Regions from separate parts of the Homo sapiens genome. Here region 2 is linked to region 1. Evidence: fine-mapped QTL for protein levels in blood plasma. A gene starts in region 1. The other region holds a variant in brackets. All regions are shown on one strand. Distances are from middle to middle. Region 1 holds the start of COL5A1 (collagen type V alpha 1 chain). Region 2 overlaps LOC100506532 (a long non-coding RNA gene).

What was found. A credible set is the group of variants that fine-mapping cannot tell apart. PIP is the chance, under the fine-mapping model, that this variant and not a neighbour inherited with it causes the effect. The UK Biobank Pharma Proteomics Project read protein levels with antibody pairs (Olink). The fine-mapping took linkage between variants from a reference panel, not from the people measured, so its PIPs are less certain.
Region 2: its variant is the best candidate, but not a certain one, in a credible set for the plasma level of the COL5A1 protein (UK Biobank, PIP 0.65).

Annotation. Positions count from the first base shown.
Region 1 is chr9:134,634,775-134,650,690 of GRCh38, forward strand. COL5A1 (collagen type V alpha 1 chain) reads left to right here and starts at 7,029. Exons shown (of 66, transcript NM_000093.5): 1 at 7,029-7,522. The coding sequence starts at 7,414. It overlaps COL5A1-AS1 (COL5A1 antisense RNA 1), which reads right to left. Exons shown (of 2, transcript NR_138049.1): 2 at 14,611-14,810. LOC124902300 (a long non-coding RNA gene) reads left to right here and starts at 13,280. Exons shown (of 2, transcript XR_007061842.1): 1 at 13,280-13,490; 2 at 13,617-15,432. RefSeq lists enhancers at 8,008-8,714, 9,970-10,554, 12,537-13,336, 14,061-14,560.
Region 2 is chr9:134,543,517-134,559,432 of GRCh38, forward strand. It overlaps LOC100506532 (a long non-coding RNA gene), which reads left to right. Exons shown (of 3, transcript NR_188441.1): 3 at 1,404-1,747. Among named protein-coding and RNA genes, the nearest start is that of COL5A1, 90 kb to the right of the region's middle. RefSeq lists enhancers at 1,739-2,504, 9,393-9,914, 9,915-10,435, 11,299-11,901. The variant G/A (reference allele first, on the strand shown) is at 8,534.

The sequences.
Region 1 (15,916 bases):
CCAGTCGATCATGAAGCTGCCGGAAGCAGGACGGATGGAGCCTTTTCTGAGCCTGTGCTCTGTGCCCGGCACAGTCTGTGTGTTATCTCGGATAACCTCCACAGCATCCTATGCAGGGGTGCACTGCGGTCCCCACTTTCCAGAGGAGAACCTGAGCCAGCGTGGGGAGGCTGCAGCCTCAGGCCCCTTGCTGAGGCAGACTCATATCCAGGACGCCGCTTGCTCCAGATTCTGAGGTCATGCCTGCCCTCACCTTCGTCGGATGGTGGGAAAGCTTCAGTGAGATCCCTAGGTGGGGAATCGTCACAGACACCCTCAAAAGCTGTTTCACCAGGGTGATCTTGTTGACTCCCGGGGAACAGCCCATTGAGTGGGAGGCATCTCTTTCCACCTATGCAGATGGTTCTTTAAAAGATTTAATAGCGGGGACCTTTCCAACTGACATTTCTTTTGGGCTGTAAACTCAACCTTTATCTCTAATATATTCTCCTGGAGGATGACACGCCAATCCAGGCCCAGTTTGGAAATGTGCCTTGGCACACTGTGGCCCGAATTAATTGCGAACTCACTCTATATATCTAAAGTCTGTTTGGTGTTCGTCATGGGCTCTCTCGCCTGGAAATTCCATTATTTTGCAGGGTTTACTTGGCACCTGATGGGATATCCAGGTCCAGTAAAACCAGGCCTTCGTGGACATGACATGGAAACAGAGCTGTGCCGCACAGCGGAGCGGGGCCAGTGAGATGGGAGGGCCAGTGAGATGGGAGGGCCAGGCGCAGCCAAGGGACAGCCAGGCTGTTTCAGCCATCGATGTCACGGCTCCATCCCTTGGTGATTTATGCTGCTCTGTCCCTGGGCTTGAAGGAGGGGCAGCCCCTCAGCTGCTGAGAGCCCTGCTTCCTGGCCCTCCATCAGACCATGATAAAGAGCATGAGCCGCCATGCTTGAGAAGCCGCCATGATGAAAAGCGCCTCCAACCTCCAGCTGCGTGTATATGTTTGATCAGATGCCAGGGCCAGCTGTGTCTGGTCCTGCTTGTGTGGCTTGATAAATTGGGCTGGGGGTCCTGGCACCGTGGTGTCCCGGGATGGGAGCTCTGGGAGGAGAACAGCTCCTCTGCTGGACTCTGGGTTGGGGAAGGCTGAGGGTTGGGGAAGAGGAAGAGGCTTCAGCTTCACAAAGTGGTAGAAGTTCAGGTGCGGGGGAAGGGCTTCAAGTAAACCACTGAGTCAGCGGATTGCATTTTCAATGGAATCATGGGGCCTGGAGTTCACTGGACCACAGCCTGCCTGGGTTCTTCCCAGCTCACTCCTCTCACCCCCTCTCACCCCCTCCCACCCACTCCTACCCCCTCTCACCCTCTCTCACCCCCTCCCACCCCCTCTCACCCACATCTAGATGGAGCACAGGCTGCAGGCTTGGACTGGGGAGACTGGGGTCAGACCCACGGCTGCTTCTCCGGAAGCAGAGGTATACACAGATGTGACTACACAGTGTCCCAAGGCCTGTGCCCCCACCTACCATGCTTGACTGTGTGCCCCAAGCCACACCTGCTTCTGTGCCCACCTGCTCCAGTGCACACCTGCCCCATGCACACCTGCTCCAATACACACCTGCCCCTGTGCACCACTGCTCCCATGCACACCTGCTCCCAGACACATCTGTCCCAAAGACTGACTTATTCACATGCACACCTTCATATCCAGAACAGAATGTGCTCCTAACAGGCAGCATGGGCAGGGGCACCTCACTCACAGAAAGGGGAGGGCAATTTGCTGTGGGGAGGGAAGCAAAGAGAGGAGACTCTGGAGTGGGCTTGGAGCCTTTTGGAGGAGATGCTGCATCTGCACTGGTGTTCTGGGCCCTCCAGCTGGCCCCACTCTCACACCCATGGTGGACAGTGCCACCGAGGAGAGGTTCAGCCTATGTGCTAGAGGGACAAGGAGACAGGGTGGTACACATTCATCAGAAGCCAGGGTCCCCTCTCACTGGCCAGGGTCCCCTCTCACTGGCCAGAGTCCCCTCCCACTGGCCAGGGTCCCCTCTCACTGGCCAGAGTCCCCTCCCACTGGCCAGAATTCCCTCCCACTGGCCAGAGTCCCCTCTCACTGGCCAGGGTCCCCTCTCACTGGCCAGAGTCCCCTCCCACTGGCCAGGGTCCCCTGCCACTGGCCAGAGTCTGCACCCCTCACCCCTGCCCCCGCCTTGGGGTGTGAGAATCCACAATAAGAGAGCACCTAGGTGGGTAAAAGTCTCTACTGTGCCAGAAAACAGAGCCCCTCAATCCTCAGATTTCTGCTAAAGGCCCACGGACTGGGACTGTTTTGCAGGAATCCAGTTTTAGGGGGATGAATTGTGTCCCCCTAAAATTCGTACATTGAAGCTTTGCCTCTCAGAATGTGGCTGTGATTGGAGATGGGGCTTTTAACAAGATAATTAAGTTTAAGTGGGATCATTAGGGTGGGCTCTCATCCAACTGACTGGGGTTCCCGAAAGAAGAGGAGATGAGGACGCAGACACACACAGAGAAATGACCGTGTGAGGGCATGGGGGGATGGTGCCGACTGCAGGCCGAGGAGGGAGGCCTTGGCTGAAACCAGTGCTGCCGTCACCTCAACCTCGGACTTCCAGCATCCAGGACTGTGAGGGAATAAATCCCTGCTGTCTAAGCTGCCCCATCTGTGGCACTCTGCTGTGGCCGCCGAGCTGACTCACACACCCGGGAAGCCTGGTGACCTGGGGCATGGCCCCGGCCCCTCTCTCACCCTCTCCTCTACTCTCCACTTGGCAGACACAGGCTGAAGAAGGCTGCAAAAACAAGGCAATGAAGGACATGCTTTGTCCAAGGGCTTTAAAGTGGCGGCCTTCCCCAAGTAATTTTTCAAAGAGAGTGCTGGCTTGAAAGGGGCTCCCTCCCATCTGCCCCGCTCCAGTACGTAGGGAGAGTCCTGCTGGCTCTGTGGGCACAGCGGTGGCCTCTGGTCTGCTGAGAAGCCACAGCTCACATGGAGCAGTGGTCAAGGCCAATGGGTCAGAAGGTAAACTAGGGCCAGTGGGGGTCTGGGCCCCTGGAACCGGCAGGACATGCGGTCAGCCGCGGGCCGGCCCTCGGACCCGGCGCCTCCTTGGTTTGCTCTGCTGCTGGTGTGCAGGCTGCACGGTGGTTAAGGGCTGCGTTCCGGGCTACTGGGTTTAGCCACACCCTTGCTGTTCAGCCTCCAGCAAATAGTTTCACCTCTCCGAGCCTCAGCTTCCTCCTGCCTCAAAGGGTTGTTGCTCCATTGAATGAGATGATGCAGGTAAGCAGGTGAAGCCCTGGAAGGCGGCAGGGGGCTTGGAGGAGGCAGAAGAGGATGAGTGCCCAGCGGCAGGGAGCAGGGAGGGAGGGGACTGTGGCCAGGCCTCCCTCACCTACCTTCTCATCTGAGCTTCACAGGGACCCCCCAGCGGTCAGTTTCTTCACCGCCCATTCACAGATAACAAACTGAGGCTCAGAGACAGAATCCTCTTGCCCAAGGTCATGTGGCTAGTGGCTGGTGCTGCTGGGATTCTAACGGAAGTCTGTGTGACTCTGGAGTTGGCCTGGTCCCAGGACATCAGCTGAAGGACACAGCTGCAGCCCCAGGTGCCGGATGCAGGTTCAGAGCATTCTCCTTGCGCAGCTAGAGGGAACTCCTCCCCTGCATGGGACAGAGTGGGGCAGCTTCCAGCCCCTCTGCCAGGCCGTGGCTCACCCAGGCCCTCCTGGGCCCACTTCAGCAGTCTCTGGACCATAAATGCTTAGAGGGCAAGCAGATATCTGCCTCCAGGCACTCCAAGAAGACCTTGTTCCTCCACCTCCTCCATGGGTCTAGGAGAAGAAGAAGGGACAATCTGGCTGCCCCTCAAGGCCTTTGTCTTGGGAAGCAGCTGGCCATTTTCCAGCCAGACGTGACTCTGGGAGGCTGGTGTGACCCCTCAGGACTGGTGGTGAACCATCAGGTCCACATGAGAGCAACACCTGATGGTTGCCATGGCCGCTCTGTCCGGACCACAGCTCTGCCGCTCGAAAAATAAATGAGAGGAAACACAGCCTTGGAAGGAGAAGTTGGGCCATCGGACTCCACGTGTAAGGTGCAGGGCACCTGGCCTGCTCCACTCTCTGCTAGGCACTGTGGGAAACACGCAGTGATGGGTGGTGGCGCTCCCGGTGGCCCAGGAGTACACAGGGTACAGGACCTGGTTAGCCTTCTGCGGTGAGTGCCATGAACAGGAGCAGGCAGCCGGGGAGGGCTAGATGGGAAACGATGGATAGCAGAAGACAAGGAAGACACACATGCAAAAAAGGGGCCACCTCTGCATGGGCGTGGGAGTCACTGCTGCATTGCAGGTCAATGTGGAAGGGACCCAGGCACCTTGCTCACCACATACTCCCTAAAGCCTAGAGCGGTGTTGGCAAGGAGTATGCGCGCAATAAGCAGTTTTCCAAGGACTCTGGTTTTGCTCAGTTGTGGGAGGGCATGGAACATGGTGAGTTTGGGACAATCTGCACCAGTTGCTGTTGTCTGAATCTGGGCAGGGTGGTCCTGGCGGCAGGCGTGTGGTCCGGATGCCATGGGGAGGCAGGCAGTGCACACTGGGCTCCAAGCATGGAGACCTGGGTCCAAATCCGGACCCTGTCACGGATGAACTGGGTAAGTCCCCTACCCTCTGTGGCCCCTGATTTCCTCATCTGTGGATGGGAGAGATGCCAGTATTCCCTACCGGTGCATGAGAACTGATGCACGTGTGGGTGAAGAGTGTGAGGCAAAAGCCTTAAGATGTGGCTGATATTCTTAGCTTGGCAACACAGTTCGAATCCTGATTGGTACTGCCGGGCCATTCTGCCATAGTCCCTGGCTGACACATCAGGCCGCCAAGTTTGGGGACTTCTCTCTGAGTTTCCTGGTGGGATAGAAACTCATCTCTCCACCCAACTCAAGGCTCAGATGAGGGTGGAAACTCACATTTGACAGCTTTCCAAGCCACCGCACCACTTGCTCTCCAAGAGAGGATAAAGTGCATCTGTCATGGCTGCTTGAGCTGCAAGACTGAGCCATCTTACCATTGCTGAGAAGTCAACTTTTGGGGGACCTTGGGGTGGTCACTTGAGTGTCAGCTCTTAAGGCGCCAGTTGTGTTAATTCAGGGCAAAGTTTAGATGCTGGCTGTGAGTTACAGGAGGGCTTGCTGACTGGCACGGATGTGCACATGGGACTGTCAGAAAGGAACTCCACTTGTGCTTGGGGAAAAAGAAGCTGGAACCAGAAAGCCTCCACTCTCTTCTGATAACCAGGCCATGGCCTGTGTCAGCACCCCTAGTCTTCAGGGGTGAAGCTGGCCTTGCTGGTAGGGGCGGGGGCACTCCAAGGACCAAGCACAGCTGGGGCTGGCGCGGAGTCTGGGGTTTGATGGAATTTCTCACTCATTGAAGTCCACAGGGAAAGTAAAGGGCCAGTGGCTGCAGGTTAACCAACGCACAGACACGCACACAGGCACACACACAAACACACACATGCACACAACTCACACACATTTTTGCCTGATCACATATGCCTTATACAAGTTGTAAAACAAAATAAAATCAACAAGGAAACAGGTCAGAACTAACATTTGCTTTACTGAATGTATCTCAAGCACCTCCCCACGTCTGTGTGTGAAGAGCTTCTCATTCTTTTCCTGCGAAATATTTGATATCTATGCAAGCGCATGTGGCAGATATGGAGACTAAAAGCCTCATCACCAAGTTAGCAACAGCGACCTATCACCCAGCTCCGGAGCCTGCCATGGCTATCCTGGCAAACCTAACCTCGGACGCCTCTCTCACCTCCTGTTTCCAGAATGGTGAGAATTAAAGAGCATTTGGGGAATTTCACGCCCAGTCTGGAGATGTAACTGGAGAGGGGAGTCCCAGCCCTGTCTGGCATCTCTGGCTAAATTGTTTGTTCAAAGGGAATGGGGATGGCCCAGGGTTTGCAAATCGTTCTTAATTCATTCTGATTCCCTCCTTTTAAAAAACTAGCCCTGCAGCCCTTGGGGAAGGGGTGTGGGTCAGGCTTCAGGAGGCTGTGCAGGGAGGCCAGGCCTGGGGAAGCTGGAGGGAGAGACGCCCACCTACCACCCAGAGACTGGCGGGCCTCCTGCTGGAGGAGACCCCGAGGGGCTTAAAGAAGCCAGGCAGGAGAATCAGGGCCCCAGCTCTTCTCCGAGAGCAGCCGATCAGGAATGCCTTCTCCCTGCGCCAGCTGTCACTCCCAAGGGGATGCCTTCTTTGGTTTCCTTTTTATTGCAGAGGGGCCACCAGGGAGTGGGCAGGAGTGAGGGGTGAGAGCCTGGGGGCCGCAGAGCCAAACTTCGCCTGATTAATAACCCAGATGTTCCCGTCCAAGCACATGGAGGTCCCGGGAGCTCTTGGGAAGTCAGACCCCAGCTCGGTCCCGTGCCAATCTGCAGTTAGGAGGCAGGTCCTCGGTCCGGGTTGACACGTAGGCCACAGTCTTGGGCGCCCTGATCTGGCTGGATGGGAAGTTTAGTCTCCACCCAGAAGAGGAGCTCTGAACTCCTCCACGTTAAAGAAAAAGTTAGGCGGGGTAAACTGCAACTTTCTTTTTAACCCGAAGTGATCAAACCTCGGGGCCCCTCTGCACTGGTTCTTGGAGCATGGCCAGGTGCGGGCACCTGGGGTGGGAACAGTGGGGGGACCAGGGTGGGCCCCTGGGCTCCGAGGCCGCCCCAGGCCCGCCCGCCTACCGGCTCTCAGAGAAAGAACAGGGGGCCGCGCCCGCCCCACGTCCGCTCCGCCCCGGGCCAGCCCCTTCCTCGCTGCGACTCGCCCGCTGTCCCCACCCCCTCGCCCGCGGCGCCCAGTGGGAGGCGGGGGCTGGCCTCGCCGAGCCCAGCGCCGGGCTCTGATTTGCTGCGGGCGTTGGGGATCGACAGCCTCCGCGGCTGCCTTCCAGGAGAGAGGGAGGGAGGAAAAGGGGGAAAAAAGTGCTCCGCGCCGAAGGCGAGGTCCGCACTCTCCGTCCCCGCGGCTGGCGCAGGACCTCACTCGAGCGGAGCGCCCACGGGGAGCGGGTCGCGGGGCGGCGGCGGCGAGGAGGAGGCGAGAAGGAGTTGGAGGAGGAGGAGGAGGAGGCGAGGGCGAGCTAGCCCAGCGGGGTCCCGGCCGCCCCGCGGGCCAAAGTCGAGCCCTCCCGCCCGTGGGCGAGCGCGCCAGCCGCCCCTTCCAGAACAGCCGCCGCCACAAAGAAGAACGGGGGGTGCCGAGGTCCCCATGACCTCCTAAAGTGGTGCGGTCCCTGCTGAGTGCGCTGCCCGGGCCGTGACCCGCGCCCCTGTGCGTCCCCGCGCGCCTCCGAGCGCCCCTGTGCGCCCCGGCCCGCGCCCCGCCGGCATGGACGTCCATACCCGCTGGAAAGCGCGCAGCGCGCTCCGCCCGGGCGCCCCGCTGCTGCCCCCGCTGCTGCTGCTGCTGCTGTGGGCGCCGCCTCCGAGCCGCGCAGGTAAGGGCGCCCCGGGGCGCGGGGCTGCGGGATGGGGCGCGCGCAGCCCGGGCGCCGCTGTCATCCCCGGGCGCCTTCGCCCGCAGAACTTTTCTTCCTTGGCCTGTGGAATGCACGGGCCAAGACCACGAATGCCATTTGCTGGGGGCCCCCCCGAGATGACGACACGCAGACACAATGCCCGCGGGCGCGCCGCCGCCCCCTCCCCAGACGGGCGGGTCGGGTGGGGCTGTCGCGCGAGCCGAGGAAGGACCGAGGGCTGGATCAGCAGGAGGGGTTGTCCACGAGGCGGGCAAACTTTTGTCCCAAAAACCTTCCTTCTCTGTCCCACATCACAGGCGCCCAGCTTGGGCCCTCACAGCCCTACAGCAGAACTTCCTCTGCTCCAAACCGGGCAGGGCCGCCCCCTAGAGTTACAGCCCTTCAAATCCCGGGACTCCTGGGGATGGGGGGAATCCCAGAAGCCTGGGCCCCCAGCACTGAACTTCCCCCAGGCACTGTCACTCTAGGCTGAGCTGGCGCCCTGCTTTCCCCAGGGACAGCGTTTCCTGCAGCCTTGGTCACCTAAGTGTTCGGGGGCACTGGGGACCCCTGCAGGGTGGTAGACAGCCCTGCTCCTAATCCCACCCCCAAACTTCTTGATCCCTGGAAGGCAGCTTTTCCTGGATTCGCTGCTGAGAGATGGGATGCGTGGAGCAAAGCCAGAGATGGGCTTGCAGGCGGGGCTGTGAGTGGTTGGGATGATATGCAGATGTGGGATTCCTTCTGCCAAGGGTCAGCCCTTAGAAGGAGGCTTGCTTCCCGGGGAGGGCGCTTCAAGGCGGGGACTGTCTGCGTCCCTGCCTGGGTTCTCGAGGGTTCAACTCTCCCTGGCGCAGCTTCCTGACGGGGGAGTTTTTCTAGGCATCGCTCTTGGTAGTTAGTGGCGGGGTGGGTTTTCACAGACTCTCGAACATCAGAGCCCCCAGCCCTGGAAGGTCCCCCGAATCCTTATTGACAGGCGGGGAGATGGAGGCTCAGAGCTGTGTGCTGCCAGGTCAGGAGAAGTGGCGGGCAGAGCGATGGGACGGTGGGCTCAGCGAACGTCTGGACCAGCCCGCCGCCTGCCAGCAAGAATGCTTCTCTCTGCTTCACGATTGGAAGACAAGTGGGAAGAATCATTGTCCGTGTTCCGCTTGTCAATTAAAACACTCTTTTCCTTTTTCCCTGGCACGATCAGTGCTTGTTGGGCTAACTGGATGAGCTGGAGTCTGGGTGTGGGGGCTGCCCTGGGGCTCTGGGGGAGGAGCCAGGAGCCTGGCCTGGCTCCCAGGACCTGGGATCTCATCCCTGGGCCGCCACCAACTCTCTCCTGACCCTGGGCTAACTGGGCTTGTGTTTCTCCAGGGGTTAGCTGAAGGTGGGGGACAACAGAGGTCCCCAGAAAAGTGGAGAGGAGAAGGAAGGTGTGGTCAGGGACTGTGCCATTGCCGGGGGACTAGGCCCTGTCTCAGCGCCTCTGGGGACTTTTCCCCAGAAACTCAGGAGGGAGTCCTTCAGGGGAATCGTCACCCTAGACAGCTGGGGCAGGGCACTGCCTGGGGACCATGCACCGGACTGGGCTTGGGGTTCCATTTCCCTCCCTGCCCATCTCCCCACCTCCACACTGTCTTTTTCCCTCTCTGGTTGCCCTCGCTAATCGAAGTGCGGCTCGTTGGAAGTGGGAGTGAGGATGGCCCAGAGCAGCAGGCTATGGAGTTGGACATTTTGCTTTTGTCAGAACAGACTTTTAGAAGCATGTGGAGAGACCACTTTTCTTAGTGAGTTTTGCCAACGTCTCTCCACCTCCCAGGGTGGGACCTATTTGGAAGTCATCCTTCGAGCATGGCCAGAGGGGGCGGCTGTCCACTGGAGATGCAGGCGCTGGGGGGAGGGGGCGGCTGTCCACTGGAGATGCAGGCGTGGCGGGGAGGGGGCGGCTGTCCACTGGAGATGCAGGCGCTGGGGGGAGGGGGCGGCTGTCCACTGGAGATGCAGGCACTGGGGGAAGGGGGCGGCTGTCCACTGGAGATGCAGGCGCTGGGGGGAGGGGGCGGCTGTCCACTGGAGATGCAGGCGCTGGGGGGAGGGGGCGGCTGTCCACTGGAGATGCAGGCGCTGGGGGGAGGGGGCGGCTGTCCACTGGAGATGCAGGCGTGGCGGGGAGGGGGCGGCTGTCCACTGGAGATGCAGGCGCTGGGGGGAGGGGGCGGCTGTCCACTGGAAATGCAGGCGTGGCGGGGAGGGGGCGGCTGTCCACTGGAGAGGCAGGCGCGGGGGGGAGCCACCAGCAAGTGCCTGCTGTCTTCTCCATCTTCGGATCTGCCAGATGTTTTCTGAGGGTTTTCTGAACACAGTTCTTTTGCCTGCTTTCTTTTGGCCAAGTGTGTGAAGGAATGAAAAGTAAGATTGCATTTGGGGCTGCTGAACAGTGTAACGGGGAAGGAGAGTATGGGAAATGAAACATGACCCCAATATTTGGAAATTGAGGTCATCTCCTCTACACGCCATTGGTTGACTCCAGTCACGTGATTGCTTTTTGCAATAATTTGTGGGGAGAGTCGGCCAAGTTTTGTGAGACTTGACAGGTATCAAATGGTTAAATTTCCTCTGACTCAATCAAGTTGGCTGGAAAGACATCCTTTTCCATCCTCTGCCCCCTCCCTCCCTCTCCCCATAAAAGAGCAGTGAGTGGGAGGAGCTCAGAAGCCCCAAGAATTCCCCAAGCCCTCTCCCTGCTGTGGTCCAGATTTGCCGGAGGGGTTGGAGTTTTGGTTGCTACCCAGGGCTGTGCCCACCCAGCAGTGCGGCAGCCCCAGGCAGGGGCGTGCTCCCAGTGCCAGGCTCACAGTGGTTTCTCCAGTGATGTTACTCCTGGGCTGCTCCTGCGGGGCTGGCCAGAGCCTGCTCTTCACCCCGCCCTGCAGATATTTCTGGACTCCCCACCGCCACGCCTCAGCCGAACACAGCTGGTGCTGCCCGTCCCGCCCTGCCTTCTCGCTGCCTGGCCTGTCTGCCTGCCCTGCCTCCTCCCTGGACCGCCCCATCCCACCTCCTGGGAGATAGACCTTGATAGGTGGAGTAGGGGCTGTGCAGAGCAGTGAGCTGCCCCGCTGGAGGGCGAGGATGAGTCCCCAACACTTCCCGAGGGCACCCACATAGGAGCCTGAGCCAAGCTGCATCTGGAACAGTGCAGGACCTGTCCCTGCTCGGTCACGTGACGTGGCTCTGGGAATGGCCTTGGGAGACAATCACACATGGGAATGGAGGGGCTGGCACTTGCCTGGCCTGTGGTGAGCATCAGCTGCACCATCTCACTGCACCCTCACCCGGGCCTGAGAAGGGACAGAGCCTAGGAGTCAGGGGGCAGGGATGCCAGGCAGATGTCTTCCATTCCTGCTGTGGGGCCCTAAGCCAGCAACGGCCCTTCGCCTGGCATGGTCACTCTTTGACTTGTCACAGTTCCCTCTTCTCACTTCCCATCGGTTTATCAGCTCTCCCCGGGGAGAAGGCCAGGGCCCTGAGCTATAGTCCTGGCCTGGGGGCCCAGTCCAAACAGGGTCCTGGGAGCAGAGCCATTCCATTTGGCCAACACAGCTTTTAAGTTCCTTTCTTTCTCCTTCCCCCTCCATCCTTCCCTCCTTCCTTCTTTCCTCCCTCTCTTCCTCCCTCCCTCTCTCCCATCCCCTTCCTTCCTTCCCTTTGTCCCTCCATCCCTTCTCTTTTTACTCCAGTGCCTTCAAGAGGGATGCAGCAGCCACAGTCTCCACCACTTCCCAGGCCTCTCTGCACATCAGCATAACCTGCCTGGACCCTGAAGGCTTTTGCCTTTTCACCTGGGTCGGGCCTATCTTGGGGAGACCGAGGCAAATGGGATGGGACCCCTCGTTTCCTTCCAGGAGCTCACAGTCTGACAGGCAGACCATTGTGAATTTTACTCAGGGCCCTCCATGGGATGTGCTGGGTCTTGCATCCGACAGTCTGGGAGGGTTAATTGCACTGGGGAGAGCTGGGGAGCTTCCTGGAGGAGGTGATGTGAAACTGGCCTTCCCTCCTTCTCTTCTCCTTCCTTTTATTGCAGAAATGACCCTCCTTCGTGGGGTCCTCCTCCACCTCTGGCTTTAATCTTGCTCTCTTCCCTCCTTCTGACAGGACATTCCACACCGTGTCCCAGAGCTCTCCTGGGCGGCTCCCTTGGCTGGAAAGCCCCTCATTCACGGGCTTGGCAGGTGCTCCCAGTATCTGTTTGCCAGGAGAATACAAGTGCCCCTAAGGGAAGTGGCAGATCCTGGCAGCTTCCTTAACCCTTTCTCTGCCCCCGTTCCTCCTGTTTCCCTTTGACGAGCCCTGCTGGCCTGGCACAGTGAGCCCAGTCTGCACAGCTCTGCAGACAGCTCCACAGCTGTGGATTAGGATGTGGGGGCCTCTGGGGGTGATTTTGGGTACCTGTGCTGGGTGACAGGTGGTCGGATGTGGGAGGGGACATTCCTTGGCAATCAGATTACTGAACTCCAGGCCAGCAAGGTCGGTGTGAGGCTGGAGCTGAGTTTCCCTGCCTCTGAGGGGCTGTCGGATGGGCTGGGCGAGGACAAGTCACTGCACCTCAGCTTCCCCTCGTGAACATGGGGAGAACCACATTTCTTGCTTTGAGGCATGGTTGTGAAGATCGATTGAGGCCACACCTGTGAGAAGCTTTGCAGGCTGCCTGACCTGTACTCGGCACTGGCTGTGTGGGGACGTTACCATCGCCCCCATCTTCAGTGGTGGTTTTGCAGGAGGAAAGAGCAGTGTTCCCACAGCCCTCTTTAGCTCCCAGAAGCACAGGCGAGGGAGGTGTGCCTGTGTGGGGCCTGGCCCTGCTGAGACCCCTGGGGCTCTGCTGTTGCCCGCTTAGCCGGTCTCTGCTGCCCCTTTGCCTTCCTTGGCCTCGGTTCTTTGCTTTCCCACGGAACCTCATGGGGTCATTGTCCAGGCCGTGGGGTGTGATGCATGTGAAAAGCTTTAGAAGCCAATTCCAGGGTTTGCACTCATGTGTGCGTTTGTGTGTATGTGTGTCATGTGTGCGTGTGTGTGTGTGTGTGTCAGGCCGTGTGCACGTGTGGACAATGTGTATATCTCCCCGCGATCTGCCTGCACACATGTGTTTGTGGGTATACATGTGTGTTTGAGTGTGCACGCATGCGCATCCTTGCACATGTACCTGCGTTCACATGGGTGTCCCTGGCTGACTCCACGTGCAGGGCCTGGTGTGTTTGAGGAGCTCGTGGCAGGGCGACGTTTCTCTCCTTACCGTGACCCGGCCCCAGCTGGACGGGAGAGGAGGAGATGGCACGTGGAACCTGCCGGTTGAGCGTGAGGCTGTGGGTTCTGCCGCAGGGCAAGCCGGGTCCAGCTGGATCCGACAATTTCATGTCTTTTTAAACTCCCGGGAGGGCGATGTTACATTATGGCTCCCGCTTCTCCTCTATTTACATTCTCCCATATAATTGACTCGTCTGCTCTCTCTCAGTGCTTTGCCAAGTGTCGGTTTTAAAGTTTCTGGCCTGGCTGGTGGATGTGCCTCGATCCTGCAGGCGGAGCCCACAGCGGCCCTTGTGGTGGTTACTACTGAGTGTCAATTTGATTGGATTGAAGGATACAAGTATTAATCCTGCGTGTGTCTATGAGAGTGTTGCCAAAGGAGATTAACATTTGAATCAGTGGGCTGGGGAAGGCAGACCCACCGTTAATCGGGAGGGCACAATCTAATCAGCCGCTAGCAGGTGTAGAGCAGGCAGAAAAACATGAAGAGACGAGACTGGCCCAGCCTCCCAGCCTACATCTTTCTCCTGTGCTGGACGCTTCCTGCCCTCGAACATCGGACTCCAAGTTCTTCAGGTTTGGGACTCGGACTTGCTCTCCTTGCTGCTCAGCTTGCAGACAGCCTATTGTGGTGGGACCTTGTGATTGTGTAAGTCAGTACTTAATAAACTCCTATATATATATATATAATATATATATATATATTTCTATTATTTCTATTCCTATTAGTTCTGTCCCTCTAAGGGAACCCTGACTAATACAGCTCTGCTCATAGGCAGGACTGCAGGACTGCAGCCACCAGGACATGGCATAGGGACCAGGGTGGCCTGCTGGCAAAGGACAGGCAGCCGGCAAGACTCCTGGATTCCTATCCTGGCTCCAGTGTCTACCAGCAGTGCATTTTCCCACCCTGTGCCTCACTTTCCCCATCTGTAAGAAGGGGGTGGTGACTGTAACTACAGTAGGGTTTTAGTGATGTCTAATGTATTACTCATATAAAGCACAGAGTAAGACCCCATTACTGCCCTTGCCACCAGGGGCCCCAGTGCAGCAGGAGGCTGTGAGGTGGTTTGGGGCCCTCTACTCGCTGGCCTGTGCGTGCTCCCTTGCCATCCTGTGTGGTGTCACACTGCTGCTTCCCTCACTGGGTACGCAGGAGAAAAGGTAAGGCAGTAAGCACCAGTGGTCAGTTCAGCGGATCGCTCGCTGCTCGCTGCCTCTGAGGCTCTGAGCCTGAGCCAGGAAGGTGCATCCTTGGGCAGTCGCGGGCCAGGCCAAGTTCAGCCCGCAGAGTGGCCCTCCCCTGCCTCCTCTGGCCACTTGCTCTTTACAAGGAACGGAGGTCCAGGAGGTGGATGGACCTGTGCACCTCCCAGCTGCAGGCCTCTGTTCTGTCTCTGTGATGTGATGGCGGTGAGTGGTGGCTGATCACTGAAAGGAGGTGTTCCAGGCAGGGGTGGGTGAAGTTGGTGCGGGCGGGGTGTGGGGGGGGCTTTGCCATCTCAGATGTTGTTTTTGTGCCAGCCCAGCCCCAGGCCACTGGAGAGAAGACCGTGGAATGAATGAATTGGTGGCTGGATGCTCAGTGGAGGGGTGCGGGTCACTTTGAGTTATCCATGTCAGATAGTCCGAGCCGTCACACCCTCAGCTTCCTATCAGCAGAGGAGTTTTTCTGGAGGAATCTCAAACTAGGTAATAACCTCATATTAGCAGTAAATGTCACCATCCTTTGATGACTCAGACCTAAGAAATGGAACCACAGCCTGACCCACTTTTCTCAAAATTTAATTACTCAGAGCTCTGGGGACATGGGCTCAGCCTATTTGCCGAGATGTCTCTGCCCATGAAATGGAAGCTTCCTTTATTTTCTGTTTCCTAGACCCGTGTTCTTGTAGGGAAATTAGCTCTTCTGTCCTTTTCTTCCTTGCCAGGACCTCGGCAATAGGGTTTCTGGTGGCCTCTTTTTTTTCTGTAAATAAATGCCACAAAATGACATAAAAACAGTGTGGTGATTCCTCAAGGATCTAGAACCAGAAATACCATTTGACCTGGTGATCCCATTACTGGGTATATACCCAAAGGATTATAAATCATCCTACTATAAAGAGAAATGCACACGTATGTTTATTGCGGCACTGTTCACAATAGCAAAGACTTGCAACCAACCCAAATGCCCATCAATGATAGATTGGATAAAGAAAATATGGCACATATACATCATGGAATACTATGCAGCCATAAAAAAAGGATAGTTCATGTCCTTTGCAGGGACATGGATGAAGCTGGAAATCATCATTCTCAGCAAACTAACACAAGAACAGAAAACCACAAACACCACATGTTCTCACTCATAAGTGGGAGTTGAACAATGAGAACACACGGACACAGGGAGGGGAACATCATGCACCAGGGCCTGTTGGGGGGTGGGGGGCTAGGGGAGGGAGAGCATTAGGAGAAATACCTAATGTAGATGACAGGTTAATGGGTGCAGCAAACCACCATGGCATGTGTATACCTGTGTAACAAACCTGTGCGTTCTGTACATGTATCCCAGAACTTAAAGTATAATAAAAAAAATTTTTTTAAATGTGTGTATGTAGCAGGAGTGACTTAAGTTGAAAAACTCTGACCCTTGCATTGGGAAACAGTGATCTCCCAGTGAGAACACATGAGCATCGTAACCGTCTTCCATTGGAAGCGACCGTCTTCCATTCTGCTGGCGGGTGGCCTGGGGGACCAGCACTCTTTCCCGTGTGTGGGTACAGAGGGAACAGATGGGGTCCATATGCAAAGACATTGGGTGTGTCAGCAGGTTTGCTTGGCAGCATTTATGGACCCCTAACATGAGACGGACCTGTGCGGGGGGCACAGGTGAGCGATAGGCGAGCCGTCTGTGCCCTACTGGGTCTTCCGCTGCGGCGGGGGAGTCAGCCATCTGAACAGGTGGTTTTACCCAGTGAGGTGCAGTAGAAGTGGGAGTAGGGTGTGGCCAAGGCCAGTCTAGGGAGGCACCTGCCAGCCCCATGGGGCGGTGGCCAGTCAGAGACCAGCCTGCTTCTCCAGGGCCAGCCCTTT
Region 2 (15,916 bases), 91 kb before region 1:
TCCCAAAGTGCTGGGATTACAGGCGTGAGCCACTGTGCCTGGCCCAGTTTTACCTTTAATGAGTCTCCTATGCACCAGGAATTTCCTCTTTTTTCCATTTTTGTCTTAGGTTACTTAATAGAGTTTCTAACATTTCTTCACGTAGGCCTGTGCATTTCTTGTTAAACATCCGTAGTTATTTTGAACGTCTTGGCATTTTACAGCTGAGCTCTCTTCTTCCTTTGCACGTGCTCCAGGCTTTTGTTTCTTGGTGGGAAAGCAGCTGATTATCGTGGAAGGATTTTGAGCCAATAGCCTCTGTGGGTCGGGCATGGCTGCCCCTCCTCGCTAAGCCTGTGTGGCTTCTTCATGCCTCACATGTGGATTCTCCACCCTCTCTGTGCAGGACAGGACTTGGGCAGGGGACACAGATGTCGTAGGGGTGTTTGAAGTGCCAGGAGGGGGTGTCATGTTTTCTGTTCATTTTTTTGTTTTGTTTTTTGTTTGTTTGTTTGTTTTTTGAGATAGGGTCTCCCTTTGTCACCCACGCTGGAGTGCAATGGTGTGATCTCGGCTCACTGCAACCTCCACCTCCTGGGTTCAAGCAATTCTCCTGCCTCGGCCTCCCAAGTATCTGGGATTACAGGCGTGTGCCACTGTGCCTGGCTAATTTTTGTATTTTTAGTAGAGACAGGGGTCTCACCATATTGGCCAGGCTGGTTTCAAACTCCTGACCTCAGGTGATCTGCCCACCTTGGCCTCCTAAAGAGCTGGGATTACAGGCGTGAGCCACCGTGCCTGGCCGATGTTTTCAATCCTAGACTAGCTTTCGTCCTTTCATCCTCATAGTATTAAAAGAAAAGTAAAATCCGGAGAAGTGCAAGGGGTAGGGCTGCGCTATCCTGCGGCGCCCACTTTCACCAGCTGCAGGGAGCCGCTGGCTTGCAGTGAGAGCAGCCTTTAGTAACTAAGGTTCCTTCCTTCGGCTCACTGGAATCAGCCAGAAAATACCAGCGGCATGAGTCATACATGGGTGCCATTCATCGTCCATGGGGCAGCAAAGGAGGCCATTGTCCCACCCCAGAGTGGGCTGCCCTGGAGGTGGGGTCCTCCCGTCCCAGAGGCTCCCGGCCCTGCAGCTTTCTCTAGGGTTCGGCTCCTTGGAGGCATCTGACTTGGCAGAGATGAGTGGCCGGTCTGGCCAAGCCCCCGAGATGGTGTTGGTCCTGCCTGTCTCCCTGTTCCGCCTCTTGTCTGACCTAATCCCTGGTTCCCCTCCCCTGACAGACACCCACCTACCCTGCTTCCCACGGTTCCCCGCACGGCACAGCCCAAGCTCTCCTAGCAGATGTTCTCAGCTGGACAGGGCAGGATTGTTGCCTTCAAACAACAACAGGCTAATTTTCTTTTCTCCTTTTAAAAAGCATCCATGTGCTCATAAGCAATGGGAGTGAATGAAGAGCCAGGCCCAGCAACAGAGGGGAGCCTGCCCACATGGAGCAAAAGGAGCCGGACACCAGATTCACCCACGGCGCGATCCCGGTGACGGAGGCAGTGTGAGCAGGCAGGCGGCGGCCACTCTGGGGAAGGGAGAAGGAATGAGGGTGAGAGGGGCACAGAGGGCCTCCAGGGAGACGGTCCTATTGTGCCTCTTCTCCTGGGTGTCTGTCACCTGCATGCAAACTTTGTGATCATTCACTGAGTCACGTTTTCTTACATGTCTCCTTAAAAACAGTTCTTAAAAGCTCCAATGTGTATTTCACTAAGATTCACTTTCCTGAGTTGTGAAGTCTGAACTGGGGAACATCTGGATTTCCAGGCCTCAGGACATCACAGACCACGTTTCACATATCAACAACACGACGCAGCATCGGTCAGGGTGGAAATTGAGAATGAAAACCTTTCCCAAAGGCCGGCCCAGAAGCAGGCCATCTCTTATCCTTGAAAAGTCCCCAAAGACTAGTTTTAGCATCTGAAACTCATCTTTCCCCTCCTAAATCTGAACTTTGTGTTGCAAGGAAACCTCACGTTGCAAGCGTGTGTGTGCCTTCTCCCGAGACCCAGAGCTCAGCCTGTGTCACACAGGGAGCCCTGTGGCTGGGTGAGGCTGTGCCCTCGCCGGTGAGAGGCAGCACTCCCTCCACCGTCCATCCTGGGTTGAGATTTCATTCTGCAGGGTGAGTGGAGTGCCGAGGCGCCGTGCCCTGGTTACAGGTTCCAAACTCACAGCTGCCTTGTCAAATGTCCCTGTCTCAGGCAGGAAGACCCTATGGTTTGATCTCTGGGACCCTTGTCTGTCTAGGACCCTGCTGGGGCCACCTGTGCCTTCTCCAGGCGCCGGAAGGGCAGGAGAGCCCCGCCATCCTATTTCCCAATCCCTGGGAAGAGGTTTGGTTGATGGGGAAAACTGCAGCGTGTGCTCCTTCTGGTGAGTTCTGCATTCTTTCCTAGTGAAGTATTGCGCATGGAAAACCAGAATATATGGTCAGCATTCTTCCTATAAACGGGCGATTGTACGCTGTACAAGAATGACTGAGCAATGCCTAGGGGGTGGCCACGGTGTCCCCTCCCCATCCATGTGGTCCCAGCATGGAACTGGGTGGCTCGGTACCCGACGGACACGTGGCTGCAGACGCGCTGTCTCGCTTCCGTATTTCCAGTGGGGACCTTGCCGAAGCGTGGCTGTCGTTTACGTGACCGTCCTGTGCCTTGGTGTTTCCTTAGCCACAGGGCCCCTTTGTCACATTAATCACTTGGGGGAAGTCCTGCATGTGAAGGGGACTGAGATGGGGATGCTGGAAGCAGGGGTGCTGGCGTTGCTGCCCGGGGAAGCCTGCCCACTGCCCTGCGTCCCACCTTGGCTGCTCCCTGTCCCAGAGCAGCCTCTGAGCCTCCTCAGTGGGCTCCCGGGGGGCTGCAGAAAGCTCAGGAAGGACTGGTTTCTCACTCCTGCTGAGCCGCCTTTGAGCAGATCCGTCTCCAACCCGTCTGTATCCAGGCAGGCTCGAGTCCACATGTGAGAGCCGTTTCAGCCTGAGGCTTGCCGAGAATGTGTACATGGGATTACTTTCTCACTGGCTTTCAGCAGACTCTCAGATGTTTTCCGAAAGAAAGAAAAGTTTGGCTCTGAACCATATTGAAAATCCCAGTCAAGAATTCCACACACATGCTGAGAAGCAGTTCAGCCTTTTTCCGCGGCTAGTTGACGTGCAGTTAATTCTTCCAACAGCCCCTGAAAGGGAGTCGATGAACAGTCAATCCCCATGGGTTTTGGACAACTGATTACAATCACACTCACCATATGTTAGAATGTGCCACGCGGACATGGCCTCCTCTTGCTGGGAATGGCCTGAGCCTCCGTGGAGTGAAAACTCACAGCCCTGCCCTGAGGGGCGATGCTCCGGGGACACCTGCCCCTGTCTGCTGAGATGGGCAGCAACGGGTGACTCCTCCAATGCCCCAGGGTGGTAAGCGGGACCTGGCAAAGCACCTGGCAGCCACCACCCTCTTCTTCCAGTTATGACAGACAGAGCCGAGGCCTCCACCACGGGCCTTCTCTCCCATTACACCTGGCTAGGGGCACCATTCATGTTGGTTTGGGGTCTTGCAACCAAAGTGTCTTAAGACGGGCTCTCTGGAGTCCTTGGAAATAGAGAATTATGTATGGGTGGTTTTGGGGAAACGCTTTTGGGACCAACACCTAAAAGGGCGTGAGGGGTGCAGCACAGGGCGGAGGGAGGAGTTGAGTGGTGACGCGGTCGTGAACTCGGGCGTCAGCCCGTCCTGTGGACGGCTCTGGAGCTGGGATTCCCTTTGGAGTTGTCCTGCGTTGAGGTAAGCGGGCTGAGCCTCCGGACCGACTCCCATGCGGTTTGTCCTGAGATGTGGCTGGGCCTGGGAGCGGGCGTGACCTCACACAGTGCAGCTCCCTTGGGTGCAGGGCAGCTGGCAGAGACTCTGCTGTGATCCGCCGGCAGCTCCAGGCCCGCCTGGAGTGACAGCCTTGGTCTTGAGGGTGGCATCTTGGGCACACGAGAACATTTGCTGCAGCCTCCTCACTTCCTCGAACACTCAGTTACTCTGCGAGAGCTTCGGCTGATCTGTTTTTCTGGGGAAAGGTAACAGAAGGGTTATGGGATAAACCACGGCACCCTCCACCCTCGCCCGGTTGCAGCCAGCCTCGTCATTTCTCCCCTCAGCCACCCATTCTCAATTCCCTTCACCCCCGCCTGTTGCCTCTGCTGGTCTGGCCTTAAGCTGGGTGACCCCCACCCTTGCCCCTCAGGTCAGTGCCCCGGTCACCAGGCCCTTCTCCAACCAGCTCTTGCATCTGTCCTGTCACCCTCACACATGCTTAGGGGTGTGCGCAGAGTTGAAACTGTGTTCTTCCCTCCCCTGTTGTGTGGCAGCAGCACCCCACCCCCCCACGAGGAGCAGGCCCAGTGACTCCGGCTAAGAGGCCAATTTCCCGCTTCAGTGACCATCTCCTTCTTACGCTGCTGGTCTGTTGGCGTGAGGAGCCCACAGTGAGCAAGAGGCAGTCAAGGGAAACTGGAGGGGACTCTTCCTGTGTCTCTGGGGACAGCAATGCCTTAGGAGAAACTGGACTCCTGGGCTCACTGGGCCCGACGTTATGAAGACAGGAAGATGAGCTCCCTCACCCAATCACAGGGGTGTGGTGAGTGGGACCTCCCCTCTCCCTTCCCTTGGCTCTTAGACTGGTGTATTCTACCCTCTGGGTGCACAAGGCCATTAGATGGTCAGGGACGGGTGTCTGCCGTTCTGGAGAGGGGCCCCATCCTCGCTGGCAGTCTATGTCTGCTACTGCAACAAAACGTCTCAGGCTGGGTCATCTGGGGGCAGCAGACATTATTGCTGACAGTACTGGAGGCTGGGAAGTTCAAGATCAAGGAGGCGAAGGAAGGTTCGGTGTCTGGGGAGGGCCTGGTCTCTCACTCCAAGACAGTGCCTTGAATGCTGCATCCTCCGGAGGGGACACGTACTATGTCCTCACATGGTGGAAGGCAGGAAGGCAAAAAGGGGTCTAGCTAGGTCCCTTGAGCCCTTTTATAAGGACACTGATCCCATTCATGGGGCTGCAGCCCTTATAACTCAATCGCCTCTGAAGGGCCCCACCCTTTAATACTATCACATTGGGCCTTAGGCTCCAACATGTAAATGCTGGGGGGACGCACACGTTCAAACCATAGCACTCACCCTCCAGCGGCCTGTCTCCAAGTCAGAGTCTTGCAGCCTGGTCAAAAGGCCCCTCTGTCACCCGTCAGGCCAGCAGCTTCTGGGTGGAGCAGCCCTGTGCTGGGACCAGCGCAGCCGGTGGCGTGCGGGTAACTCTCACCTCCTCCCAGGCCCGCTCAGGGACATCGCGCGCAGAGCCAGGGTTTGGAGTATCTGCCCCGGGGAAGTCGACTCGGCGCGTGCTACAAAGTGGGTCTGTTTTCTAGGATTTTGTTTACCCCAGAGAGCTAAGATTGTTAAACATGTACTAGCCCAGCACTGAGTATATCTCACTTTCTGTGCCAAGCAGTGTGCGCATGCTTGTGTGTGTGCCTGCGTGTGTGTATATGCATGTGTGTGATTAAACACGTGTGTTACTGTGTTTCAACCTCACTGCTATCCCGTCTCATAGGTGTCATCTCCACCGATGAGGAGGCTCAGGTGAGTCAGGTTAGGCCCCTCCCCAAGGCCACGCACTTAGGATGTGGCAGAGCCGTTTGAGCCCAGGTATGTCCGACTCAGGAATCCTCCTTCTTAACCGCACTGACTACCGTATGTGGACAGTTGTGTTTCCCTTCTGGCTTCAGTACCTTCTGTGGCTGGCACCCAGACCATCTCTGACTCTGGCTATCCGTAGAATCCATGCTTCCATAAGTCTGTTCTCTCCGGGCCCCTCGGGAAGCGGGAGATCCGGGAGATCCAGGGTGCCAGAACACCTTCTTGGGCTCTCACCGACTTTCTCAGGCAGCTGGAATTCCGGGAACCCTCAGGTGGGCACAGGGCCAGGCCGCCCCTAACATCGTGAGCATCCGTCTGGGAGTCTACGCAGCCGTGGTTGTCCCTCTGTGCCAGCCTGAGGCTGGGGGTGGGGATGTTGTGGAGGGAGCAGGCCATGGGTCACTGGAGGAGCTGAGGGTGCCTCATACCATTTCTTTTGGGGACAGTTTGCCTCCAGAGTCCTGGCAGGGGGTTTGTGGGAGAAGGCAGGGCCCCGTTACCCCACATCAGCTGAAATAAAAGAAACATGCGGCACACACAGTCAGTAAGACAGAGCCACCGAGGCAGCCATCTGAGGGAAAGTGACATTTTCACTGGGCTCTCTCACCCTTGCTGAAGGGCACAACCTGTTTTGTTTTCAGCTGCAGGCTGGGTGGTGGAGGCTGGGTGGAGAAGGCTGGGTGGTGGAGGCTGGGTGGTGGATGCTGGGTGGAGAAGGCTGGGTGGTGGAGGCTGGGTGGAGAAGGCTGGGTGGTGGAGGCTGGGTGGCGAAGGCTGGGTGGTGGAGGCTGGGTGGAGAAGGCTGGGTGGTGGAGGCTGGGTGGAGGAGGCTGGGTGGTGGAGGCTGGGTGGTGGAGGCTGGGTGGAGAAGGCTGGGTGGAGAAGGCTGGGTGGTGGAGGCTGGGTGGTGGCGGCTGGGTGGTGGAGGCTGGGTGGTGGGTGGTGGCGGCTGGGTGGTGGCGGCTGGGTGGTGGCGGCTGGGTGGTGGAGGCTGGGTGGTGGAGGCTGGGTGGAGAAGGCTGGGTGGTGGAGGCTGGGTGGAGAAGGCTGGGTGGTGGAGGCTGGGTGGTGGAGGCTGGGTGGTGGAGGCTGGGTGGAGAAGGCTGGGTGGAGAAGGCTGGGTGGTGGAGGCTGGGTGGTGGCGGCTGAGGCCTCTCTCTGAAGGTCATCCCTGGCAGTGGTGGCTGTGCCTGGGACCCTCTTGCTTTCCCTGGGGGCCTCCCGGAGGAACAGCTCTATGGTGTTTCCGACCAATCCCCTTTCTTTGGGTCTTGCTGGTTATAAAATGGGAATATTCATTTCAAGTGCCGAGCCAATGCATATTCTTTTCCCACCATCATAAAAGACTTGCTTCCTAATGACAATAACCTTCATTGCAGGCCGTCGATTGTCATCTCTGTTTGTTTTTCCACTCCACCTTCTCAGCTCCTGTGCCACCTCCCACCCCACGTCTTGTTGACTTCATGTTTATCCTTCACTCACTCAACAAGCACATGTGTCCTTAGTGATGCCCCTGCAGCCCCTGTCCCATCTGGCACTGTGTCATTCAGGTGTTCCCGCCTCCCCGGACACCTCCTTCGGCCCCCTCTCCTGGGTGTTCTGGACAACTGCGGCCACGTGTCTGCTTTGCTCCAACTCTGAGTGGTCTCAGGCAGGTCCTTGCCCCTCTGAGTTTCAGTTTTATTTATAATGTAGAGAAACGGAGAACTTGTTTCATAAATGATCCTCACCAATTCCACGTGGTGGCCCAGAGGGCTGTGTTGAGAAGGACTCTGAGGAGCAGCCCAAAATTGACAGGAGGGAGGGCTGACCAGCAACGTGTGTTGTGAGAACAGGAGGGAAGGGGGCCAGGTGGACACTGGCTCTTTGCTGTCCTTGGACTGGATGGTGCTTCAGCACCTGCATCTCTCCGCCTCTTCACACCTGTCCCGCTTTACATCCTCCGTGTGGGAGACGTCACACCCACCTTCAGTTTAGAGCTGGGGCCGCTCTGTTCCCCAGGGCCGCAGCTGCGGGGCAGAGCTGGTTGTCAACTGCGTGTGAGGGTGGAATCGAAGGGGTCCTCTGTGCTGGAGGACCCCGTCCTGGAGAAGCAAAAGGCTGAGTCGCTGAGTTTTCGGGTCTTGGCTCCCTGCCCATGGCCCCTTTTCCCAAGTAGAGACCCCAGTGGTCCTGGGAGCCGCCCTGCAGAAGCCCTGCCATGACCTGGCATCCTCCGCAGGTGAGGGAGCCGGCCTTCCACCTGGAGGGGGCAGAGGGCAAAGGCTGCAGAGCCTCCGCCGCGTCAGCCGCTGGTTGAACGGTCCAGGCGTGCGCGCATCCCTCGCAGCCGTCGACACACAAACAGGCTGGTCTGACGGGACAACTCTCCACTGAGTTCAAGCTCAACAGGCTCAGATGAGACCCACAGACCATTATGTGTTTACATCTGGAACTTTCTTTTTCCTGCATGTGGCCCCCTTCCTGCACAAAAGGTTGGTCTTCTTCATCTCCCAAAATCCATACGGCTTGGCATAGGATAGAAGCACAGACAATGATTTCTGCGATTGATTTATTTTCCCTTGTAACTAAATGCTGAAGTGACAGTAATATAAGCCAGCCCTAGGGGATCTAATTCAGTGTCCTGATTGATAGGACAGCAAACTTGGTCTTGCTCTTCATCTCAGGGAGCCCAGACTCCCCGTGGACAAGGGGCCGAGAGGTTTGTGCAGCCTTCTCTGCCTTGTTTCACGCCGGCCAGTGGCTGGTCTAGGAGGGATCCTTCCCCCACCCCCCACCCCAAGTCTATTTCAGACCCACCTCCTGCTGACTCTGCTCCATC[G/A]AGAAGAGCTATAAATCAGCCTTCCTTCTGGGGTGATTATAAAAATCACTCTATTAGCAGTTGACTCACAGTCTAAAAATGTGCTCATGGCATAGTTGTGGCCACTGAGCCTGGTTCGGTGGGACAGGCCCCAAGCCCCAGCCCGCGCCTTTCTGCAGGAGGACTTCCCTTTCCAAGCACGCGCGCTGCCGCCAGAGCCTTCCGGCCGACCCGCCGCGGTGCCCTTCCTAGCGACGGCCTGTGATGTTCCTTAGCCACGGGGCTTGGCCCAGACCCGCTAGAGGGGGAACGAGGGAGGAAGCCATCTGGGGAGGAATCAGAGTTCAGACGAGAAAGGAAATTGCCCTGAGATGATTGAAATGGCAAGGAGAAGGGAGAACCTGGCCAGTCCAGCTGAACAAGCGGATGTGGGGTCGGGGGTGGCCTGGGGTCCCTGTCCTGGCTTTGGGTCTCCCTTGTACCCATGTAGTACTAGTACTACTACTACTCAGTGACCAGCTCTGCTGACACTGGGGTCCGGCGGAGTCTGAGGGACTGGAGGGAGGCTGCCTTGTCTTCTTCCACCTCCCTGGGTGCCAGCTGGGTGGGGCAGGCATGGAAAGCCCTCTGCAGATGTGCAGGTCCCCCAGGAACAGAATGGGGGTTCTAGGTGAGTGTGACCGGGGGCTTCCATGTAACCCCACTACAGTGACCTGAAAACAGGACCAGTAACCCCAGATCAACCGCCAGCCACACCCTGGGCACCATCTCCCCCAGAAGTCCTTTGGTGCCCCAGGGCCAGCACCTGCTAAGGTGAGAATTGGGACCACCTGTGCCCATGTCCCTCAGCCATGCTTGCCCTGGCTTGTAGCTCCCCAGGACAGGGCTGGGCCTTTGCCTCGGGTGGGGTCCCTGCAGCTGGCTCCGTACTGCTGGCCACACCTCAGGACTTGGTGAGCCTTTGAACACTAAGTTCTGAGCTCAGGGGGCTCAGCATTTTAGACTTTGGTTTTGCTGACACTCCTGACCAAGTGCACTTTCCCCTCTGCAGAGCCAGACTGTGGCTTTTCCCTTTTGGGCAGTGGAAGGGGCGGGCCAGAGGCTGGGTCAGGGTAGTGGAGAGAAGAGCCCCAACCAGCTGTGGCCCGTGATGCAGTGCCTGGGGCTGACCCGGGGCTCCAGCTCAGCCTGGGCCTCAGCCGCGTCAGATCCCCACCAGGCCTCCTCCTGGGTCCCAAGGGGCTTCCCTGCTGTCGGCAGTACCAGCAGCTGCAGTTTGATTTGGGGCAGAAGTCAGGGTGGGCTGTGTCCAGAGAGTCACCCTGAGTGGCCTGTAGGCACAGCATTGCTCGGAGATGGCGCTCACCCAACCTTCATGCAGCAGGCACTTCTTGAGTGCCCAGCATGTGCCAGGCCTGGCGCGGCCCGGCTGGCCCAGTGCGAGTGTGGACCAGCCCTCCTTGTTGGGACAGGCAGGCTGGGGAGAGGAGAGCAGGGGCCCGAGGCCGGCATTCTGCACTTTCCATCCCCTCCTCCTGGGCTCCCCGCTTCCTGGGAGGTCCGGGCAGGAAGCCGGGCAGAGCCCACCCCCATGCTCTCAGACTTTTGACAAGTGCTCCCCTTGATGCCAGGCTGTGACGGTGAAGACGCCACTCCCAGCAAAGTCAGAGTGATCTTCTTCCTGCCTCCCCAGGTTCTCCAGCCCCTCAGTGCTCCCTGGGGAATAGCAGCTCATCAGGGGTGCCGTCCAATCCCCAATGGGGTTTCCTGTGCGGCTCTGGAGGGCTCTGGTTCCCTCGGTCTCCAGAGAAACATGTGAGGACAGCGATGGTTTTGCAGTTTCTGGCGCCGCCCGCAACACAACTCCAGGTTAATAAGAAGAGAAAGCCTCTCCTTTCACTTTCTTGCCGAATGCCTTTCCGGGCAAAGAGAAGGGGAGGAAGAGGAAGGCTGGGGAGGGGGAATTCATTTCCCAGCAGGGGATGGGGGCTGTCAGCCCTCGGGGGGCCTGGGTGGGTCTGAGGGAGACACAGAGCCTGGGAGTCCTGCAGGCCTGGCGGAGTGAGCAGGGGGGTGTGGGGGCTGGGAAGGTGGGGAGACAGGAAGGCACTTCAGGGGACCCAGGTGGGCCGATGCCCTGTGGATGGAGGGCACTCCGGAGGCCCAGCAAACAGAAAGCCAGAGATGGACAATGCTGGGAGGCGGGCGTCTAGGGTGTCAGGATCTCTAGGCTGCCAGGACGTAGAGGAGCTATGAGCGGCACAGCCCGCTGGGGTTGGTGGGAGGTGGCTCCGCAGGGGCCTGTCACTTGGGCTTGAGAGAGATTTGGGTTCCAGACTGCCTTGACTGTGACCTTGCCCTGGGGGTCAGTGCCTCATCCGAGAGATGGACTGACTCCCCCTGCTCTGCGCTCGTCACCTGCTGGGAGGCTCAGGTGAGACGGTTTGGGTGACAGCAGCTCGGGTGCTGAGGTGTCCAGTTCTGCAGGACTGAGGAAGCGCCGCTGTTGTGGACGCCGCACCTGCCTTGGGCACTGTCTGTGTAGAGCGCTGCCCAGGCGGAGCCCTGGACTGACAGGGCCCCCCTTGCTCTCCTACCCATCCAGACCAGCAAACAAGCCCTAAGGTGGACAAGTGCCACAGCGACTCAAGGGCACCTCCATCGTGGTCCACACAGTGAGCCTTGCCCCCATCTATGCCATGGCAGGCATCACCAGCCCCTCCCTGCACTCACAGCATTGGCCTCCTCCCTGCTCGGCTCTGCAGCCAGCCATGGAGGCTCCACCCCCAGGCTTGCAAGGCAACCTCCGCTGGCTGTCCTGGCTGGGCCCTCCATGGCCTGGGCTCTGCGGGCCAAGCACGAGCTGACCTCTGTCTCCTGAGGACAAGCGTGCTGGGTGGGGATCAGAGGAAGATCGCCTGAGAAGGCAGAGGAGGTCTCACTGGGGCATCTGGGGACCAGACGCGGGAGGCTGAGCTCATCCACATGCTGGGCCAGCCGCTCTCCCCAAGGCCCTGGAGACAGTCTGAGCCCAGCCAGGGTGGGGCTAGAATCATCCAGATAAGCCCAAAGGCTCAGTGGTCCACAGATGATGGGTCCAGCCATGCAGAGTGGCTGGTGGCTGTGCCAGGTCCTGGGTTCGTGGATACTCTGGGCACAGGAAGCCTGGGAGATCTCAGGGAGGCCCCTGAGGATAGCGAGGTGGGTGGAGGGCATCATAGCATCCCAGCACCCATCCTACGCTGTGTGACCTTGGGCAGCTCGCTTGCCGTCTCTGGGCGGCTGTTTCCCCATTTCTGAGTCTATCGTGTTCCTCAGTGGTCACTGTCTCAGTGGATGCTGCCTTCTAGGCCAGCAGTTGTTAAAACCGCACAGCTGCAGGGACGGCTGAGGGAACAGGACCCAGTGATATGGAAACATGTGGGAAGGCATTGCAGGAAGTCATGGAAAGAGCACAGGAATTTTCTCTGAGCCACAGAGCTGGGCAGAGGGGGCAGGGCATTTTGAGAACCTTTGATAAATTACTTACCATGTTCTGGAAGGAAGGCTCTTAGAGCCAGCTGGGGCTGCAGGGGAAAGCTGACCCATGTGTTTCCCCATGGGAATGGGAGACCCACAGGAGGGTAGGGACTTGTCGAGGGTCCCAGGATGTTGGCTCCGATTGGGAGGCCCTAATTCCAAAAAGTAAAGGGCAGGGTTCTCTCCGAACCCGCCTGCCACCTGCAGGACTGTCTCTGGGACATGCTCCTCCCTGAAAGGAGTCTGGGCTCACAGGGAAAGGTCAGGAGTTGGTCATTGGACTGTGGCTGATTGGGGGCTTCCTGGAGCACCCACTGCATGCCAGCCCTGTGTCGGGGGCGGGGGGGAGCCCAGGAGCAAGCCCAGCAGTGTCTGAGCTCTATGGGGGCCCTGCCCACCCATCGGAAATGGTAGGTGACCTCATCCTGTCAGGTACCTGGTACAGGGCCTGGGGTGGAGGCTTCAGCATGTCTCGGGGACCCACAGAACCGCCTTGCTGCAGGCACTGTCTACTGAGCTCTCACCTCTCACTGCCTCTCTGAGTCCATTCAATAGATCAGGCACGGCAGGGCATGGTGGCTCACGCCTGTAATCCCAGCACTTTGGGAGGTCGAGGCGGGCAGCTCACCTGAGGTCAGGATTTCGAGACCGCCCTGGCCAACATGGTGAAACCCCACCTCTACTAAAAATATAAAAATCAGCTGGGTGTGGTGGTGGGCGCCTATAATCCCAGTTACTCAGGAGGCTGCCACAGGAGAATCGCTTGAACCTGGGAGGCGAAGGTTGCTGTACGTGGAGATCGCACCACTGCACTCCAGCCTGGGTGACAGAGCAAGACTCCATCTCAAACAAACAACCCCTGAAAACACCAAATCAGGTAGCTTTTATGGCTGCTTCTCCCAGATGAGCAGATGGAGACCCACAGGGGCAGCTTCCACCTCTCCAGTTTCCATGGCGAGTGAGGGGCACCGCAGATTCAAAGCCAGGGCTGCCTGAGCCCACAGCCGCTTCTCCCTACCAGTGGGCTCTGTGCCCCACTCCTGCCAAACCCTCAGGGGTGCCTTGGGCTGGACTTGGGCAGGGACCTCTCGTCAGGGACCTCTCGTCAGCGGTGGCTGGGAGATGCAAGGGAAAGCCTTCCAGCTCAGCTGGGTGTGGAGTCAACAGCGTGTCCAACACTGCAACATCAGCCCTGTGCCTGTGGACTGCAGCCCAGATGGCCTGGCTCTTTCTATACATTCTGTGTCTGCCTGAGATATGCGCTCTGCAAGGAAACAGATTTGCTCAAGAATGCTCAGGGCCCTGGAATCCCCAGTGAGGAGATGTTCTAATGCAGCAGGAAGCGAGCAGGCTGGGCCGTGGCCGCACGCACCATGATGAAGAGGCCGGGACCCTGGCAGCTGGCTTTGTGGGATAGACACTGGCTCGCAGATGTGCGCTGGAGACAGCAGGGGCCTCGGTGTGGAAACAGTAGGTGTGTCAGAGGGTGGACGCTTCCTCCTTTTCTCATCCCATAGCCAGGTTGCTTCTAGGCCGTCACACTGGGAGTGCTCAGCCGCCATATGCAATCAGGTCCCTGGCATGTTTTCTGTCTTTCCTGTGTTCATTTCTTCCTGGGAACAGGTTGCTGCTTTGTGGGGTGAGGGTGATGGTTGACGAATCCTCTGTGGGAATTGCAAGAGCATGCAGGGAAGGTGAAAGCTGCTTTGCATGGTCCCCGGGGTGTGACTCCTCTGGCCCAGTAAGCATGGCAGATGCACTCACCTAAGCAACTTTGGGAAACACAATTCTGATGAGAATCTGTATGACTACAGGAAAAGGCAACCGTGCTTCAACACTGCACTCAGCGCAGATATTGCTCACGGGAGGGCAGGTTACCGATCCTGAAGCTGCCGTGCGTGTGTACAGGGATGAAACGGCAGCTGGGCTCCTCGTTCTTGGCGAGGGAGGTTTTGAATGAGCAAGGATGCGAGGCTGGAATCAACCACAGGCACTGGGGACGTCACTGTGAACACCCATCAGCGTCCTGTAGCTAGAGGTGGGCGGGTATGGAAAGAGATCTAGCTCTGCATGGATACGTGGGCTGTACACAAACTTCCTAACCCCATCTGCTGAGCGAGACTGAAGCAAGGGTGCCTCCGCGGCAAACACTCCAGAGCCCAGATCTCGGGTTCTGACTCTATCCTCCAATCAAAGGGAACAGAGCTCCTTGGGGAGGGAGTAGACACACGAGATGGGAGCACTGTGTAGTGCCAGAAAGTAAAGACGGGCTCAAGGCCGGGCATGGTGGCTCATGCCTGTAATCCCAGCACTTTGGGAGGAGGAGGCGGGCAGATCTCTTGAGGTCAGGAGTTCGAGACCAGCCTGGCCAACATGGCAAAACCCCATCTCTACTAAAAATACAAAAATTAGCCAGATGTGGTGGCACGTGCCTGTAATCCCAGCTACTCGGGAGACTGAGGCTTGAGAATCACTTGAACCCAGGAAGTGGAGGTTGCAGTGAGCTGAGATCGTGCCACTGCACTCCAGCTTGGATGACAGAGTGAGATTCTGTCAAAAAAACCCAAACTGCCCCCCACCAAAAATAAGTAAATAAATAAACTCAAACAAACTCAAAGCAAAAGGATGGGGCACGTCACAGGGCCAACCTGAAGGAGCTCCCAGTGGCCAAAGCTGGAACAATTTGAGCAAGATATGGATAATGAGGTATTGGGGTAGAACCCAAATTATTATAAAATAAACACCCGTGACTCCACAGTGACGTAATAAATTATTCAGTCAGTCAGCGAATGGGGAGGAGAGACAGGCCCCCCGCACAGAAGAGCTCTGCTTTACGTAGTTAAGCCTCCTGCCCCACCCAGCCTGGAGTGTGGGCTGCACTTCGTGACTCCTTTCTGGAGAGGACAGAATGGAAAGGAAAAGGAAAGAACTCAGTGGTGGAGAAGCTGGCATGTGCTGTCCCTGCCAGGTGATCAAGGTCAACTCCGTGGTGATAAGTGATGTTGAGACGATGGGACTGCAGTGGCGCTTCCGTTCCACGGTCTTGCTCCCCAACACCCGTAGCCCCGGTGTAATCCAGAGAGAGACACCAGACACATCTCAGCTAGGAGACACTCCACAACAGACTTGACTGAAACACCTTCAAACTGCCAAGTTCATCAAAAAGAAGGAAAGTCTGAGACGCTGCTGCAGCTCAGAGGAAGCTAAGGAGACATGGTGACCGAAGGTGACATGGTGTCCTGGAGGCTCTCTGGGGACAGAAAAGGACATTGCGGAAAACTGGCGAGCTCAGAATAAAGCTTGAAGTGAATAGCACCAAGGCCGGTTCAGTTAATAACATCCCATTGTTGGTCTCTCAGCTGTAACAAACACACCATCGGAAAGTAAGATGTTAAAAATGAGGAAAACAGCGCAGAGTCCACTGGCACTCTCCGTACTGTCTGCAATTTTTCCGTAAATTGAAGCCCATTTTAAATTTTTCAATGCATTTTTTTTAAGTAGTCAGGTGTATTTGTGTGGCTTGATTTCTGGGTTTCCTCCTGTTTCACTGATCTGTGGGTATCGTTTCGCCATCATGTGGTCTGTGGCTTTATAGTGTCTTGCAATTGGGCAGCAGGAGTCCTCCTGGGTCTGGGGAGGTTGGAGCTGTTTCTGGGTGCCCTGAGCACGTGGTGCATGGAGAGGCACAGCACGGGACTTCTGTGTGCAGGCTCTGGGGCCAGAATGCCCCAAACACACCTTCACAGAATGCCCCAAACACACCACCTTCACAGAATGCCCCAAACACAGCTTCACCTCCACCGTCTGCTAGCTGTGTGATCTTGGCTAATTTTCTTAACTTTTCTGTGCCTTGATGGTTTGGCTGTCAAATGGGAAAACTGCTGT